Linked DNA regions of Homo sapiens: region 1 is linked to region 2. Evidence: fine-mapped expression QTL. A gene starts in region 2. The other region holds a variant in brackets. All regions are shown on one strand. Distances are from middle to middle.

Region 1 (8,336 bases), 32 kb after region 2:
TCTTGGATTCCCCAAGGGATCCACTCCAAATTCTCTGGTATTTTAAAATTGGTTTATCTATATTATTTATCATCCTTGTTCAATGTGGCCTAAAACGTTGTTCTAAAACTGAAATAAAAGTACCCAGATCATAGTGCTCCAATGACTACTTCTGATTATAGTGCCACATTTCCATTCCTTATCATTATTCCACCTCACACGTCCTCAGCATGAAGCAGCCAGAAGGATCAATGACCAGATTCTCCATGATTGAGGAAGTGATAAATAGAAAAGAGAGACTGAAACCGGCCCCGTTATCTTATAGAACTAATATTTACAGTTGTTTTTGTTTGTTTTGCTTTGGAACATAGAAATGGACCCTGTCTGGTCTTAAAACTTGAAACTTGTTTGTTTTCCTGAGTTTCTTGCTTAGAAAACCGACTTTCAGGCAAGGAACTGAAACTCATCAGAGCACCACACCCAGGCAATGAGACTGCAGATCCTTCACCCAGCATGATTTTTTCCCTACCTCTGCCTAATTTCTATTTTTCCCCTGTCCACGTAGCATCAAACTCTGTAAAATATTTGAAGAGATTTATTCTGAGCCAAATATGAGTGACCATGCCCGTGACACAGCCCTCAGGAGGCCCTGCGAACATGCACCCAAGGTGGTTCAGGTACACATTGGTTTTGTACATTTTAGGGAGACACGAGGCTTCAATCAACTATAAACATTTACTGATTGGCAATTGGTTGAGTTTATCTAAAGGTCTGGAATCAATAGAAAAGAAATGTCTGGGTTGTGGTAAGAGGTTGTAGAGACCAAGGTTTTATCATGCAAATGAAGCCTCCAGACAGCAGACTTGAGAGAGACTTAAGTATTAATGCCTGAGAGATATAATGAAGCGTGTTCGACACGCACTTCCTGTCATGGCCTGAACCCATCTCTCAGGTTAAATTTTCAAAGAGCTGTGGTTGAAGAGGGAGTCCATTCAGATGGTTGAGGGGCCTTAGAATTTCATTTTTGGTTTACACTCCCCACACAGCTACATTTCTGCCTGCACATAGCTACATTCCTTCCTCACTATATAACCTCCCAATTTTAGTTTGTTGGAGAACAAAGCCAGAATAAAGCCAATCCTAGTCATAGCATTGCAACTTGTATCAGATGAAAGAAACCTACAAAAAGATAATTATAAAATTTAGATAAAATGTATAAAACAACTGAGAAGGCAAAATTTGAGGGGCTCCAATTAATCAAGGTTTACCGCTTATATTCTGTGTGACTGCCAGAAAAAAAGAAACAAAACTTTTTGGTAGGAAGATCATTTAAAATTTCTGTTTTTAATACATAAGGCCTGTTATTTAATAAAAAATTATGAGACAACCTAAAAAAAAAGAATTAAATATCAAAACACCAATTGACAAGCCAAATGATAAAAACTGGCCTACATATGGTTCAGAAAATGATTTCAATAAATCTACTCTTCACCATTCTAATCCCTTTGCAGTGCCCTAGGATGGTGACTGACTCTCATGTATAATATCCCTGGACACTATTGTCCTGAAGCTCTAGGTATGTTTGTGCTAATAGGAAGAATAGGCAAAAGATTTAAAGGTGGGAGAATCCTTCCCTACAGCACTAGGAAATGGATATGGAGTTGTTCTCGCTGAGTGTACCTCCAGGGAGGCAGCCTTCATCAGCTATAGTTTCTGCTGCTTCAGTTAATTGCTACCAGCAATGTTCTCTCAGGCCTAATGTAGTAATGGCTTCCGGCAGTAGCTAGCCCTGGGGTATTTCACTATCCCTCATGGTTTCCTTTGGTCTTATCTCTATCTTGTAAATTGTCCTGTTATTTTATCTTCTTAAATTTTCCTTTTAATGTATAACCGGTTTTTTCTTTTTTTTTTTTTTTTTTGGATCCCAAGTGTGTGTTTCTTTTTGGTACCTGAGTATATCACTGTCACTGTGGTCTCTCAACTTTTAAATTATGTGACTCTGAAGGTGTGTGTCTCCAAATTTTTATCCCTGTGCACTTTTCTTCACCTGTCTTCATTTCTTTCCCTTTTTTCCGTTATAACTTTCACTCACATCCGTGTGAAGAGACCACCAAACAGGCTTTGTGTGAGCAACAAGGCTGTTTATTTCACCTGGGTGCAGGTGGGCTGAGTCCGAAAAGAGAGTCAGCGAAGGGAGATAGGGGTGGAGCTGTTTTATAAGATTTGGGTAGGTAGTGGGAAATTACAGTCAAAGGGGGCTTGTTCTCTGGCGGACAGGAGTGGGGGCCACAAGGTGCTCAGTGGGGGAGCTTTTGAGCCAGGATGAGCCAGGAGAAGGAATTTTATAATGTCATCAGTTAAGGCAGGAACAGACCATTTTCACTTCTTTTGTAGTGGAATGTCATCTGTTAAGGCAGGAACCGGCCATCTGGATGTGTATGTGCAGGTCACAGGGGATAGGATGGTTTAGCTTGGGCTCAGAGGCCTGACATTCCTGTCTCCTTATATTAATAAGAAAATAAAAATGAAATAGTGGTAAAGTGTTGGGACGGCAAAAATTTTGGGGGCTTGGTATGGAGAGATAACGGGCGATATTTCTCAGGGCTGCTTCCAGCGGGATTAGGGGCGATGTGGGAACCTAGAGTGGGAGAGATTAAGCTGAAGGAAGATTTCATGCTAAGGGGTGATATTGTGGAGTTGCTAGAAGAAACATTTGTCATTTAGAATTATTCGTGATGGCCTGGATACGGTTTTGTATGAATTGAAAAACTAAACAGAATAAGAGAAGGAGAAAAACAGGTATTAAAGGACTAAGAATTGGGAGGACCTAGGACATCTAATTAGAGAGTGTCCAAGGGGGTTCAGCATAATTACTTACTTGGTTGGCAAGTTTTTGGGCTCTATCCTTGAGTTTTTTATGTTGTCATACACCAGGCCAGATTGATTTAGGTAGAAACAACACTCTTCATTTAAGAATATACAGAGTCCTCCTTTTTCAGCAGTGACTAAGTCAAGGCCTCAGCGGTTTTGGAGGACAACTGCAGCTAAAGAGTCAACTTGGGCCTGGAGGACTGATAAAGTTTGTGATATGTCTGTGATGCTAGCAGAGAAGACACTAGAGAGGCTATGGAAGGTCGTGACAGAGGTTGAAATGCCTCCTATTCCAGTACCGAGAGCAATAGTGGAGGCAGAAAGTCTTAAACTGATAAGCAAGGGAATTAGTGGAATAACTCTTTTTTGTCGTGTCGGTGTCATGAGGGGAACAGGGAGCTCTTCGGTCCTATTTGCAAATTGAATTTTAGGAGTAAGGAAAACTAGTGTGCATGTACCTGTCCAATTAGCAGGTAGACACATGGAGGTAGAGGATCCACAGAGGAAGAAGAGACCTTGTGCGAGGCAAAACTGGAGAAGCAAAGTAAAAAGATGAGAAGGAGTGCTGAAAGGGGTGTCTTGTACCCAGACTCCTGGGGATCCAGCTAGGGC[A/G]GCAGCCATCAGAGGTTGTAATGGGGACTGGTGGGGTAACTGCGTAGAGGGGGAGGTTCGATTTTCATGGTGTATGAGAAAATGTTGAGTGTCTATGAGCTACCTTTCACTGTTATTTATGGGGCTGGGTATAAGTAAACAACAAGAGGGCTTTGGAGATGAAGAGTAAAGGAACATCAAAGTGAAAGGTTACCCAGGGGAATTCCAGTGGGTCTTTGCTGAGAGATACATAAAGGAGCAGCCACAGGAATAGTAGTTTGTGTTGTGAGAGGTAAATACGGGGGGAGTAGAGTTGATACAAGGAGAAAGGTTTTTTAAGTAAGTGTGGAGGAGGGCGGCAGCTTGCTGACGTGAAATGTCTGGGGAGGTCTAGCTGGACCTGTCTAGAAAGTAAATGAGTTCATCAGGAGGGTAAAGGTGAGGGCTGTTAAAGGAAGTTTGGAGGTGTAGGAGACAGGAGATGTTGCCTAGTCTGCATGTAAGGTGGGGACAGCTGTGTAGGCATTGGAAGAAAGGGAAATGCAAAGCTAGAGTTTGTTCGCTAAGGAGGGATTAGAAACAGCTAGGAGAGAATGAGTAATGTTTATAGTGTGGTGGAGATAGCTGGGGAGAGGTAGAGGGTGGCATAAGAATGGGAATGAGAATAAGATTGAGTATAAAAGTAAAGAATAGAACTTCATCAGGGTGAAAGTATTGGAGGGTCCCCTGCCAGCAAAGATTATCTATCCCCTCTGAGAGGGAGTTAAGAGTTGCCAGTCCTGGGTGGGGGCAAATCCTCGAGCTTGATGTGTAGGGAAAGGAGGGGGCCTGAATAATCTATGAGGAGGAGTAGAATAGTAGATGGAACAGAAGTTATTTCCTTGAGGATAGATTTCCACGATGGAAAGGAAATGAGAGGTTCTAAGAGGTGGGCTGGTGACTTGTACTATAGCATAGCCTGCCTTTGCTGGTGTGTGGCGATTAGGCCTGGTGGAACTACTATGAATAAACTAAGTGTGTTCAGGGTGAGGAACACGAAAGAAGGAAATATGAGGAAAAGGGGTGAATGTCAGGTGAATCAGAGAGATACAGTCATAGGGGTCAGGTGTGGTATCCAGAATACTGTGGGAGGCTGGATTGAAGTCTGGGCCAGGAACAATGGTAATTGTCAGAGACTTAACAAAAAGGGAGTGTAGCTGAAGGAGCCAGGGAGCAGAAAGTGTATGCGTCAGGTGGGAGAAAGAAAATAGATTTTGGAAATTATGAGAACCGTAGAGAATGAGTTGGGCATAGTTTGTGATTTTTTGGGCCTCTAAAAGTATTAAAGCAGCGGCAGCCACTGCATGCAGACATGAGGGCTAGGCTAAAATGGTAAGGTCAAGTTGTTTGGACAGAAAGGCTACAGGGTGCGGTCCCAGCTCTTGTGTAAGAATTCTGACTGCCCTAACCATGCCTAGGAAGGAAAGGAGTTGTTGTTTTGTAGAAGGGATTGGGGTTTGGGAAATTAGCCGGACATGATCAGCAGGGAGAGCACATGTGTTTTTATGAGAATTATGCTGAGATAGGTAAGAGATGAGGAAGAAATTTGGGCTTGACTGAAGTAATGGGGGCTGTCTGTGAAGCCTTGCGGCAATACAGCCTAGGTAATTTGCTGAGTCTGATGGGTGTCAGGGTCAGTCCAAGTGAAAGTGAAGAGAGGCTGGGATGACGGGTGCAAAGGAATAGTAAAGAAAGCATGTTTGAGACCCAGAACAGAATAATGGGTTGTGGAGGGAGATATTGAGGATAGGAGAGTATATGGATTTGGCACCATGGGGTGGTTAGGCAAAACAATTTGGTTGATAAGGCACAGATCCTGAACTAACCTGTAAGCCTTGTCTGGTTTTAGGACAGGTAAAATGGGGGAATTGTAAGGGGAGTTTATAGGCTTTAAAAGGCCATGCTGTAGCAGGAGAGTGATAATAGGCTGTAATCCTTTTAAAGCGTGCTGTGGGATAGGATATTGGCATTGAGCGGGGTAAGGTGATTAGGTTTTAATGGGATGGTAAGGGGTGCAGGATCAGTCGCTAAGGAGGCAGTAGAGGTGTCCTATACTTGTGGGTTAAGGTGGGGAGATACAAGGGGAGGATGTGAAGGAGGCTTTGACCTGGGGGAAAAGGTGGCAATGAGGTGTGGCTGTAGCCTAGGAATAGTTAGGGAAGCAGATAATTTAGTTAAAGTGTCTCAGCCTAATAAGGGAACTAGGCAGGTGGGGATAACTAAAAAGGAGTGCTTAAAAGAGTATTGTCTAAGTTGGCACAAGAGTTGGGGAGTTTTAAGAGGTTTAGAAGCCTGGCCATCAGTACTTACAACAGTTATGAAGGCAAGGGAAACAGGCCTTTGAAAAGAAGGTAATGTGGAGTGGGTAGCCTCCGTATTGATTAAGAAGGGGACGGGCTTACCCTCCACTGTGAGAGTTACCTAGAGTGTCTGTGATGGTCCTGTAGGCTTCTGAGGTGATTGGGCAGTGACAGTCTTCAGTTGTTAAGCCGAGAAGATCTGGGAAGGAGTCAGTCAGAGAGCCTTGGGGCAGAGTTCCAGGGGCTATGGGAGTGGCTGCCGGTGAGATGGACAGTCTGATTTCCAGTGGGGTCTTGCACAGATGGGACATGGCTTAGGAGGAATCTTGGGCTGCGGGCATTCTCTGGCCAGGTGGCCAGATTTCTGGCACTTTTAGCAAGCTCCTGGGGGAGGCAGGCCTGGAGGAATGCCTGGCCACTGTGGTTTAGGCGTTTGGAAGTTCTTGCGTGCTGGAGATGTGGCTGGGGTTTGTCTCACAGTGGAGGCAAGGAATTGCAACTCAGAAATATGTTGCTACTTTGCTGCCTCTACTTTATTATTGTACACTTTGAAGGCGAGGTTAATTAAGTCCTGTTGTGGGGTTTGAGGACTGGAATTTAATTTTTGGAGTTTTATTTAATGTCGGGAGCAGATTGGGTAATAAAATGTATATTGAGAATAAGACGGCCTTTTGACCTTTTAGGATCTAGGGCTGTAAAGCGTCTCAGGGTTGCTGCCAAACGAGCCATGAACTGGGCTGGGTTATTATATTTGATGAAAAAGAGCCTAAACGCTATCTGATTTGGGATAAAGAAAAAGGAACATTAACCTTGACTATGCCTTTAGCTCCAGCCACCTTTTTAAGAGGAAATTGCTGAACAGGTTGGGGAGGGCTAGTCATGGAATGAAACTGTAAGCTGGGCCAGGTGTGAGGAGAGGAGGTGATAAAAGGATTACAGGGTGGAGAAGTGGAGGCTGAGGAAGAATTGGGACCTAGCTCGGCCTGGTGAGGAGGCGAGAGGTCACATGGGTTTGTAGAAAAGGAAGATTAGAAAGACTCAGCGATGCTTGGGGTTGGGACTGAGGGGACAGGCGGGAGGGAAAGAAGGAAGATTTGGGATGAGTTGCATTGGGAACAGAGACTAGGGAGGGACCAATGTGTAAAAGAATGCCTGGACGTCAGGCACCTCAGACCGTTTGCCTATTTTACAACAAGAATTATTTAGATCTTGTAGGATGGAAAAATGGAAAGTGACATTTTCTGGCTATGTGGAACTACTGTCGAGTTTGTATTGGGGTCAAGTGGCATTGCAGAAGAAAATAAGGCATTTAGGTTTTAGGTCAGCTGTGAATTGAAGAGGTTTTAGGTTTTTAAGAGCACAGGCTAAGGGAGAAGAAGGGGGAATGGAGGGCGGAAGCTTGCCCATAGTGAAGGAGGCAAGCCCAGAGAGAAGAGAGAGTAGAGACATGGAGAGAAGGGGTTGGGGGTTCTTGCCCCCAAGAAGAGCGGTACTTGCCGCTAAGGGTGAAGGAGAAGGGGTTGGGGGGTTCTTGCCCCCCAGAAAAGCGGAGAAGGGGTAGAGACATGGAGAAAAGCGGTGGGGTTCTTGCCCCCCAGAAAAGCAGAGAAGGAGTAGAGACACGGAGAGAAGGGGTTGGGGGTTCTTGCTCCCAAGAAAAGCAGTACTTGTCGCTAAGGGTGAAGGACCAAGGCAGGTGTCCCCACATGGTCAGACACCTCTGAAACATGGGTGAATAATCAGGCAGGCATCCCTGCCTGATTCCAAAGGGAAGACTGTCTTCCCAATTCCGTGACTGGTGCCGGAGTTTTGGGTCTATGAATAAAACGCGTCTCCTTCATCTCTGTCAGAAAAGGAAAGGAACTGAAATTAAGAGAGAGATTGAAGGGTGATGCCAAGATTGAAAGGAGAAAGAGGTTGAGGGATAGTGAGAGAGGTTGGAGAAGAGAGTAAAAAGAGGCCACTTACTGGATTTAAAATTGGTGAGATGTTCCTTGGGCTAGTTGGTCTGAGGACCAGAGGTCATAGGTGGATCTTTCTCATGGAATAAAGAGCAGGAGGACAGGGGATTGATCTCCCAAGGGAGGTCCCCTGATCCGAGTCACAGCACCAAATTTCACTCGCATCCGTGTGAAGAGACCACAAAACAGGCTTTGTGTGAGCAACAAGGCTGTTTATTTCACCTGGGTGCAGGTGGGCTGAGTCTGCAAAGAGAGTCAGCGAAGGGAGATGGGGTGGGGCTGTTTTATAAGATTTGGGTAGGTAAAGGAAAATTACATCAAAGGGGGGTTGTTCTCTGGCGGGCAGGAGTGGGGGTAACAAGGTGCTCAATAGGGGAGCTTTTGAGCCAAGATGAGCCAGGAGAAGGAATTTCAGAAGATAATGTCATCAGTTAAGGCAGGAACAGGCCATTTTCACTTCTTTTGTGGTGGAATGTCATCAGTTAACGCAGGAACCGGCCATCTGGATGTGTACATGCAGGTCATAGGCATATACACAGGCATATGATGGCTTAGCTTGGGCTCAGAGGCCTGACAATAACAACCCACAAAAAAT
Region 2 (8,336 bases):
AGATAAAAACCACTGCACAAATTTCAGACACCCAAAATAGTAATTTGTGGGCAAAGCCATGTCTTACACAAAAGGTATTGAAACAATTGAGAAAAAAAGGCTTTACCATACGACAACATCAGCTTACAAAATTTATTTAAGACGTATTATTGACCTGAACATAAAACCTGAAACCATACAATTTCTAGAAAACATAAAATAGTTTGTGACCATGAGAATTAGTAAAGCTGTCTTAGAGAAAGAAGAGAAAGTACAGTGTAAAATTAAAAGAAAATGATAAATTGAATTTAATTGAAATTTAAGGGCTGGGCACAGTGGCTCATGCCTGTAATCCCAGCACTTTGGGAGGCCAAGGAGGGTGGATCACCTGAGGTCAGGAATTTGAGACCAGCCTGGCCAACATGGTGAGACCCCTTCTCTACTAAAAACACAAAAAATTAGCTGTGCATGATGGCAGGCACCTGTAATCCCAGCTACTCGGGAGGTTGAGGCAGGAGAATACTTGAACCCAGGAGGCGGAGGCTGCAGTGATCAGAATTATGCCACTGCACTCCAGCCTGGGTGACAGAGTGAGGCTCTGTCTTAAAAAAGAAAAAGAAAGAAAGAAAGAAGAAGGAAAGAAAGAAAGAAAGAAACCTCTGCCCATTTCAAGATACAAGACACTGTTGTGAATATAAATATGCAAGTTACAGACTGGGAGAAAATAGTCACAATATGTGTATGCAAAAAAGACTGGTATCGAAAATACTAAAAGGTCTGTAGTTTAGAGATATAGTACAAACAACTTGATAAAAAAAAGAACCAAAGTCTTGAACAAATACTTACAGAAGAATACACGCAAGTGAGCAATAAGCACATAAAAGATGTTCCATATTATTAGTCACAAGCAAAATGCAGAATAAAACCACAATGGAATATGACTACATGCCACTTGCACTGTTAAAATGAAAAAGACTGACAGCACCAAGTGTTAGCAGGATATAGGGGAACCGAAACACATACACAACTGGTTGAAGTACAAAAATGTATAAGTGTTTTGGAAAATTCTTTAGCAGTTTTTATTTTTAATTAAAATATATGTCCTTCATTCCTGTTCTGGCATGTGATATTTGCAATAGATTGGAAGTCATCCCTACTGTTCTCACAGTGACAACAAAAAAAAAGCTGAGAAAACTAAATAAAAACAACACTTCTAGTATACAGAAATAGTATTGATTTGTTAAATGTGCTCTTTTAAGTAACCCTCTTGAACTCTGGTATTATTTTTAATAGTTTTCTAGTTGATTCTATTGGTATTTATTTTTATATAATCAAATTATCTGAAAATATTGCAGATACAACTCTTCCATTGCAATCCTTGTCCTTTATAATTCCTTTTGTTTTCTTATATCACTGGTTACCTTTAGCATTGTACTACACTATTGCTAAACAGTAGTAGTTACAGTGAACATTTTTTTCTTGTTTTTAATCTTAAATGGAATGTTTAAATTTTCATTATTAAGCACTGTAAAAATGCTGTATAAATTTAACATACAACATTAGCAATTTAAAAAAGAATTTTTCTATTCCTAGTTTCTTAACAGGGACTTATCTCAGATAGACATTGAATGTTATCATGTTTCCTTGTTGTTATCAAATGCACTTACTGAATAATTGTGTGGACTTTCTTTCAAAAAATTTTAATATTTTTTGCACTGATATTCTGATATCTAAGCATTCCTAACATAAATCCACTTGTATATGAATTTTTAACTGCTTTGTTGTATATAGTAAATAAATATTTTCTTGGAATTTCTACTTCTAATTTCATAAGAAGATGAGTCTGTTTCTTTTTGTCTTGTTCTGACTTTGTTTGGAAATCAAAAAGTCTATTAAATCGGGGTAAATTTCTCATTTTGCTGTTTTTTGAAGCAAGATGTCCAATACAAAAATTAGCTATTTCTTGAAAGATCAGTAGATTACTCTATTTTAGTTGCCTTTTCAATGTATTTATTTTTAATTTCTATAATTCTATAATTATTTATTTCTTCTCATTACATTTTGGCATTTTATATTTTTTAGACCTCTACCTTCTTTTTTTAATATTTATAAGCGCATTAGTGTTTTAGTTTGCTAGGCCTGCCGTAACAAGTTGTCACAAACTGGGCGGCTAAAATTAACAGGAATGTATTGTCGTACAGTTCTGGAGACAAGAAGTCTGAAATTAAGATGTTGGTCGGATGGGTTCCTTGTGAGGCCTGTAAGGAAAGAATCTGTTCCAGGCCATTCTCCTTGGCTTGAAGATGGCATTCTCCCTGTATATGGATCCGTCTCTAAATTTTCCTTTTTTATGAGAACACCAGTAATATTAAATTAGGTCCCAACCTACCGACCTAATTTTAACGTGGTAAAGACACTATCTCCAAACCAGATCACATTCTGAGGTAGAGGGGGTTAGAGCCTCAATATATAAAATTTTAAGGGAACAGAGTTTGCCCCATAATAATTGATGAATTATTTCCATAATGTTTTATTAAATTTTAATATTTGTGGTTTTTGTGATTATTTGTACTTTTTTGATATTTTCTTTATTGTATCGTCTTCTGCAAACTTTTAGACATCTAGTTCTCTCGTCTTTTCTAATAGCCACCATTTGATTTGTTATCCCTCTCATTTCTTCTCTTTTTCACTAACGTCTCCTATTATCTCATTTTTTAATTTTGTATATTTTTCTTTCACTCTATTGTGCCAGATGCATGTTTTTTTCTTATCTATTTTGTTTGTACACTTTTGAAGTTTCAGTTTGAGGTATTTGGCTTTTATTAGTTTTAGAAGTTGGAATATTATTTCTTCAAATATTTCCTATCCGCTATTCTTTTTTTCTCTCTCTCTGTTTCAGATTCTTGTTATCTAGAAGGTGGCATTTCTACTTCTATTTTTCATATCTCTCAGCTTTTATTTTATATTTTCTAACTGTTTTCTTTTCTGTCATGTTTTTAATAGCATCTCCTAGGTCTTATTCATTCTTAATCAGCGTCCATTCTATTAATTAACTCCTCAAAGTGTTCTTTATTTCAAACACTATATTTCTATAATTATTATTTTCACTTGGTTTTTATTGTGTTCTTGGTGCTTCTTCATTTCATTAATATCTTTTCTTTTGGAGCATTTTTATTATGCTTTAATTAAATTCTCAGACTAGATGTTCTAATGATTCCTGCAGCCCGGCTTTCTCATAATCTTCCAGTACATGCTTCACAGTACTTCATATTTTGTCTTCTCGTTATGCAATGAGATAAATTTTCTTCCACTTTTTACTCTCTAAACTCTTAAATCTGTTACCCAGACAAGCCTGACTAATTTATTTGGCTAAAGGGATGGAATCTTATTTCTTTTTGTAATACTAATGTCCAATTGTGTAAAATGTAGACTAATTTTTAAAAATTTTCTTATGAAGTTTTCATAGATCAAGAGTTCGTAACTATGACCAATAGTTAGAATATACAACGAAGTAAATTTAACCTTACCCTAAAGAAACTTCTAAATAGAACATCCTTAAATTAAAATGGAAAGTCTTCTAAGACAGAGAGATATTATCACTGAAAACATTCTAGTATAGGCTGCTAGAAATGCTGTAGCTAGAAATCGTATGGTAGATGAAAAGTTTTACTAGGTAGCTACTGAGGTCTCTTCAACCTTTAAGAGTATCAGGCTTACTTATTATTAAAAGAATTATCCCAATTGCCCTGGGAATTCATATCAGTAAACTCTGATAGTGGTTTCAGCTGGAGTCCTTAACTCATTTCAAGATTTTACTTTTTATCTCTTCACTGTCTTTATCTTAAAGTTTTGGCAGGCTTCCTATTCCAGTCATTTGGCATACAATTCATTCGTTTTCTTTAACATAAACCCTCAGAACTATTGTGAATGGAGGGTGTTTGTATGTGTACCTTGTTTTTATTTATTGGTTTGTTTATGTTTCAATCCACTGAAAACAAACTTCATTGTTGGCCTTAGCTGAATCTTAAAATTTTTGAAAAGTTCTTTTCAGTCTTATGAAGTCACAATCATCAAGCCTCCTTCCAGAGTGAAGCATTTGCTTTTTATTCTGTATAAAAGTGTTAAGCAATTTTTTCCCTGTGAAAGTACATTTTAAAAATATTCTTATTGAGATATAATACACGTACCATAAAATTCTGCCCCAAAACCTTCTTACACACAAGCTTATACCCTCTCTTGCAGACATAAAACTCTACATGCTCTAACAGGCTTCCACAATTCTCCGGAAGTGCTTCCCCATCCCTCACTTACTTTAGTAGACTTTCACAGTAAGTAAAGAGTCCATATTTTTAAGCTGTCCTGTATTTTGTTTTATCTTTCCTTTACTTCCTTCTCATTCACTCTATAAAACTTACCTATCCGATGTATGAAGCCATCAGCTCTGCCATCCCGCAGCTCTGGATTAATCATGGCAAGGCGCTAACCGATGGAGATCAGTAGGAGAGGACTAGAAAGCTTTTCATGTACATCACTTATTTAGGCACTGAGCAAGCTTCAGTCAAAAGAGACTTAACCAATCCAAATGGAAAACATCAGTACTAATTTTAGATCAAAGATAAAAGTAGGCAGACTTGTTAGTTTAAGGAAGGAATTTAAAAATTAACTCATCCATAACAAAAGGATCGTAAAGTCAATCATGTAAACACCACAACAACCGTGCTATGGAACATTTCCATCATCTTTCTTTTTTTCCTTGTGTAATCACTATCTTTTCTGACCCTGGACCCTGGCAAGCATTACTTTGCTTTATATCAACATAGTTTTTCCTTTCATGGAATTTTTTTTTTTTGAGGCAGGGTCTCACTGTGTTGCCCAGGCTGGAGTGCAGTGGGGAAAACTTGGCCCATTGCAACTTTGACCTCCTTGGCTCAAGCAATCCTCCTGCCCTACCCACCCAAGTAGCTGGGACTACAGTCGCGCACCATCATGCCCTGCTAATTTTATTTTTTGTAGAGACTAGGTCTCATTATATTGCCCAGACTGGTCTTGAACTCCTGGGCTTAAGTGATCTTCTGGCTTCAGTCACCCAAAGTACTGGGATTACAGGCATGAGCCACCACGGCCAGCCCCTTTCATAGAATTTTATATAAATGGTATCATATAATATGTAGTGTCTTGTCTCTTGCTTATTTCATTTATAATACTTTTGAGATTCACTCAAGTTGTTGTGCAGGTAAGTAGTTCATTCCCTTTTATTTCTTAGTAGTATTCCTATTGCATGTTATACCAGAAATTATCTCTTTGATCACTAGTTGATGGACTTTTGTTTCTAGGGTGGGACTGTTATGTATGAAACTGCTGTACACAGGCATTTTTGTGTGAGCAAGTTTTCTCTTGGATAAATTCCCAGAAATTGAATTGCTGCATCATATAAGTATGTTTATCTTTATAAAAAGCTGTAAAACTGGCTGGGCGCGGTGTCTGTCACCTGTAATCCCAGCACTTGGGGAGGCCGAGGCGGGTGGATCATGAGGTCAGGAGATCGAGACTATCCTGGCTAACACAATGAAACCCCGTCTCTACTAAAAATACAAAAAATTAGCCGGGCCTGGTGGCGGGTACCTGTAGTCCCAGCTACTCGAGAGGCTGAGGCAGGAGAATGGTGTGAACCCGGGAGGCGGAGCTTGCAGTGAGCCGAGATCGTGCCACTGCACTCCAGCCTGGGCAACTGAGCAAGACTCCGTCTCAAAAAAAAAAAAAAAAAATTTGCTTCAGCCTGGAATCTTTGCTTTTGGTGCTTCGGTGCAGAGACAGAAAACGGGCACTCAGAGTCACACTGGTAGTTGCACACTGTATCTGCAGAGGGCGTGTCTCATCTGTACCCCGCTGGGTTACGGGATTTCAGGAGGTATTTTTGTCCACCTGCGAATTCCATTTATTACCTTTCATTTAACAGACAATGTCTTTCCTTTCTGCAGTTGATTTTGCTAAAGAGGCAATTCATAAGGTGAGGTCCTACTCATAGTATGACTTGCTTTCTCACGACCTCCTTCCATTTTTAGTAACTCCCTGGTCTATTTGGTGTCTGTAAAAAAAGAATCTGGTAATGGAGACTTCTTTTAATATGGAAATTTGGCCTGGCAATAACTTATTCCTTTCCACATGTAACTGACCCAATCTGGTTTCCAGATGACAAGTATGCAAGCCCCAGATGTTGAGAAGCCATATTTCAACTGCTTCCTGCATCTGTTGAAATATAATTGTTCATACTTGCCATCCCTTATGTTTCTTGTAACAATTTGCACAGTTCTTGCCAGAATAAATGCCATTCTCTGTATGCTTCAGAGAATTCCGCAATTTGATCAGTGTGTGTGTGTGTGTGTGTGTGTGTGACCTTCCGTAAAACACTTCTAAAGGGTGAAAGCTCTTGTATGGCATAGACATGAATTCCTTCCTCTGGTAATAATTAGGTTATTTCCAGAAGCACAGTGTCATTTTTTTTTTTTTTTTGAGATGGAGTTTCTCTCCTGTGGCCCAGGCTGGAATGCAATGGTGTGATCTCGGCTCACGCAACTTCCACCTCCTGGGTTCAAGTGATTCTCCTGCCTCAGCCTCCTGAGTAGCTGGGATTATGGGCATGCACCACCATGCCTGCCTAATTTTGTATTTTTAGTAGAGACGAGGCTTCTCCATGTTGGTCCAGCTGGTCTCGAACTCCTGACCTCAGGTTATCCACCCGCCTCGGCCTCCCAAAGTGCTGGGATTACAGGTGTGAGCCACCATGCCCAGCCCATTCTTTAAATAAAAGCTTTCCTGTTTAAGGCTTTTCAAAGGAGCAGACCACTTTGAAGATTCTCCCTAGGGTTGATATGTGTCTAATTCATTTTATAAAATTATTCTTATCTTCATTTTAAAGCTTTGGCTATACAGTCAGAAATGTCCTGGATAACAAACTATTTTGTATTTAATTTAATTTGCCTCTTCATTGTCTTATTCAACAAACATTTACAGAATGCCTAATTAGTACTTGGCATTTTTCAGGGTGCTTGAAATACGTCTGTGAACAAAATAGACACAGATTCCTTTACTCATGGGGTTTCCATTCCAGGAAGTTTAAACATAAAGACTAAAGATAGTAAACAAATGGTACAATATTCCATATTCCAGTATGTAATAAGTTCCACTGAAAACAAAAGATAGACCAGGTTAAAATTGATTAGTAATGTCAAGGTTGAGGAGTGTGAGCTGCAATTTTAATAGGGTAGTCAGGGTAAGCATCACTGAGAAAGTGAAATGTAAATGAACTTTGAGGAGGGAAAGTGCCATGTGGATACCATCATCCTGGTGGAATTGTGTGAAGATCCTAGGGCAGATGTATGCCTGGCACATTCCGGAAAGAGTGAGGAAGCCAGCTGTGTCTGGAGGAGAACAGTGAGAGAAGAGTTCAGCTAAGTACCAACAGGGTAATTCTGTTTTTGCCATTCTGAGGCCTGTGGCTAATATTCTAAGTGAAATGGGAAGATGGAAAATTCTTTTGAGCAGAATAGCGGTGTGATCTGACATACATTTAATATGTTCACTCTGGGTACTGTCCTCAGAATAAGTTGGAAGGGGATGCAATCCACTCACCTAGCCTGAATAACTATACTTAAAAATGTTCAAAGTTCTGCTCATGTTCATAAAATTCAACCCGCAGCCCATTATTTGTTCCTTTCTCTTTTCTTCTTTACCTGTCAAATTTTCTCCACTGGGCGCTCTGACTCCTTTTAACATTATTTCTATTTCAGTACAGCTGGATAGAAATGTCATCATTAGGAGATGCAAAGCGGTCCCCTTCTAATGTGATAGTCACCACTCCAGAGATGGCTAATGGAGATGTTTAATGACCTTAAAAATGCATAAGTCTCATTCCCCATCCTCCTTTTGCTAACGATGGTCATTTTTTGTAGCACAATAATCTGAAAATTTTAGAATTATTTTTGTTCTTGTACAGTACAGCATGTAAATTATAATTTAACAACACCTGCATTTAACCTGCTAACACGGTTTACACACTATTAAATCCCGGCCCCATAGAGAATGAGAAGATGAGATGCTGATAAAATTTGCTTCTGATGATGCTGAACATACCATCTATTTTTTCTCTTCTTTTTTTTTTGAGACGGGGTCTCGCTCTGTCACCCAGGCTGGAGTGCAGTGGCGCGATCTCTGCTCACTGCAAGCTCCGCCTCCCGGGTTCACACCATTCTCCTGCCTCAGGCTCCCGAGTAGCTGGGACTACAGGCGCCCGCCACCCCGCCCGGCTAATTTTTTCTATTTTTTAGTAGAGGGTAAGGGGTTTCACCATCTTACCCAGG

Evidence for each region.
Region 1: its variant is fine-mapped to the expression of CLEC2A in whole blood (TOPMed, PIP above 0.99).

The regions. Positions count from the first base shown.
Region 1 is chr12:9,960,374-9,968,709 of GRCh38, forward strand. It overlaps a transcript of CLEC12A not described here. Among named protein-coding and RNA genes, the nearest start is that of CLEC12A, 6.9 kb to the right of the region's middle. The variant A/G (reference allele first, on the strand shown) is at 3,463.
Region 2 is chr12:9,927,881-9,936,216 of GRCh38, forward strand. It overlaps CLEC2A (C-type lectin domain family 2 member A), which reads right to left and starts at 4,490. Exons shown (of 5, transcript NM_001130711.2): 1 at 4,395-4,490. The coding sequence starts at 4,449.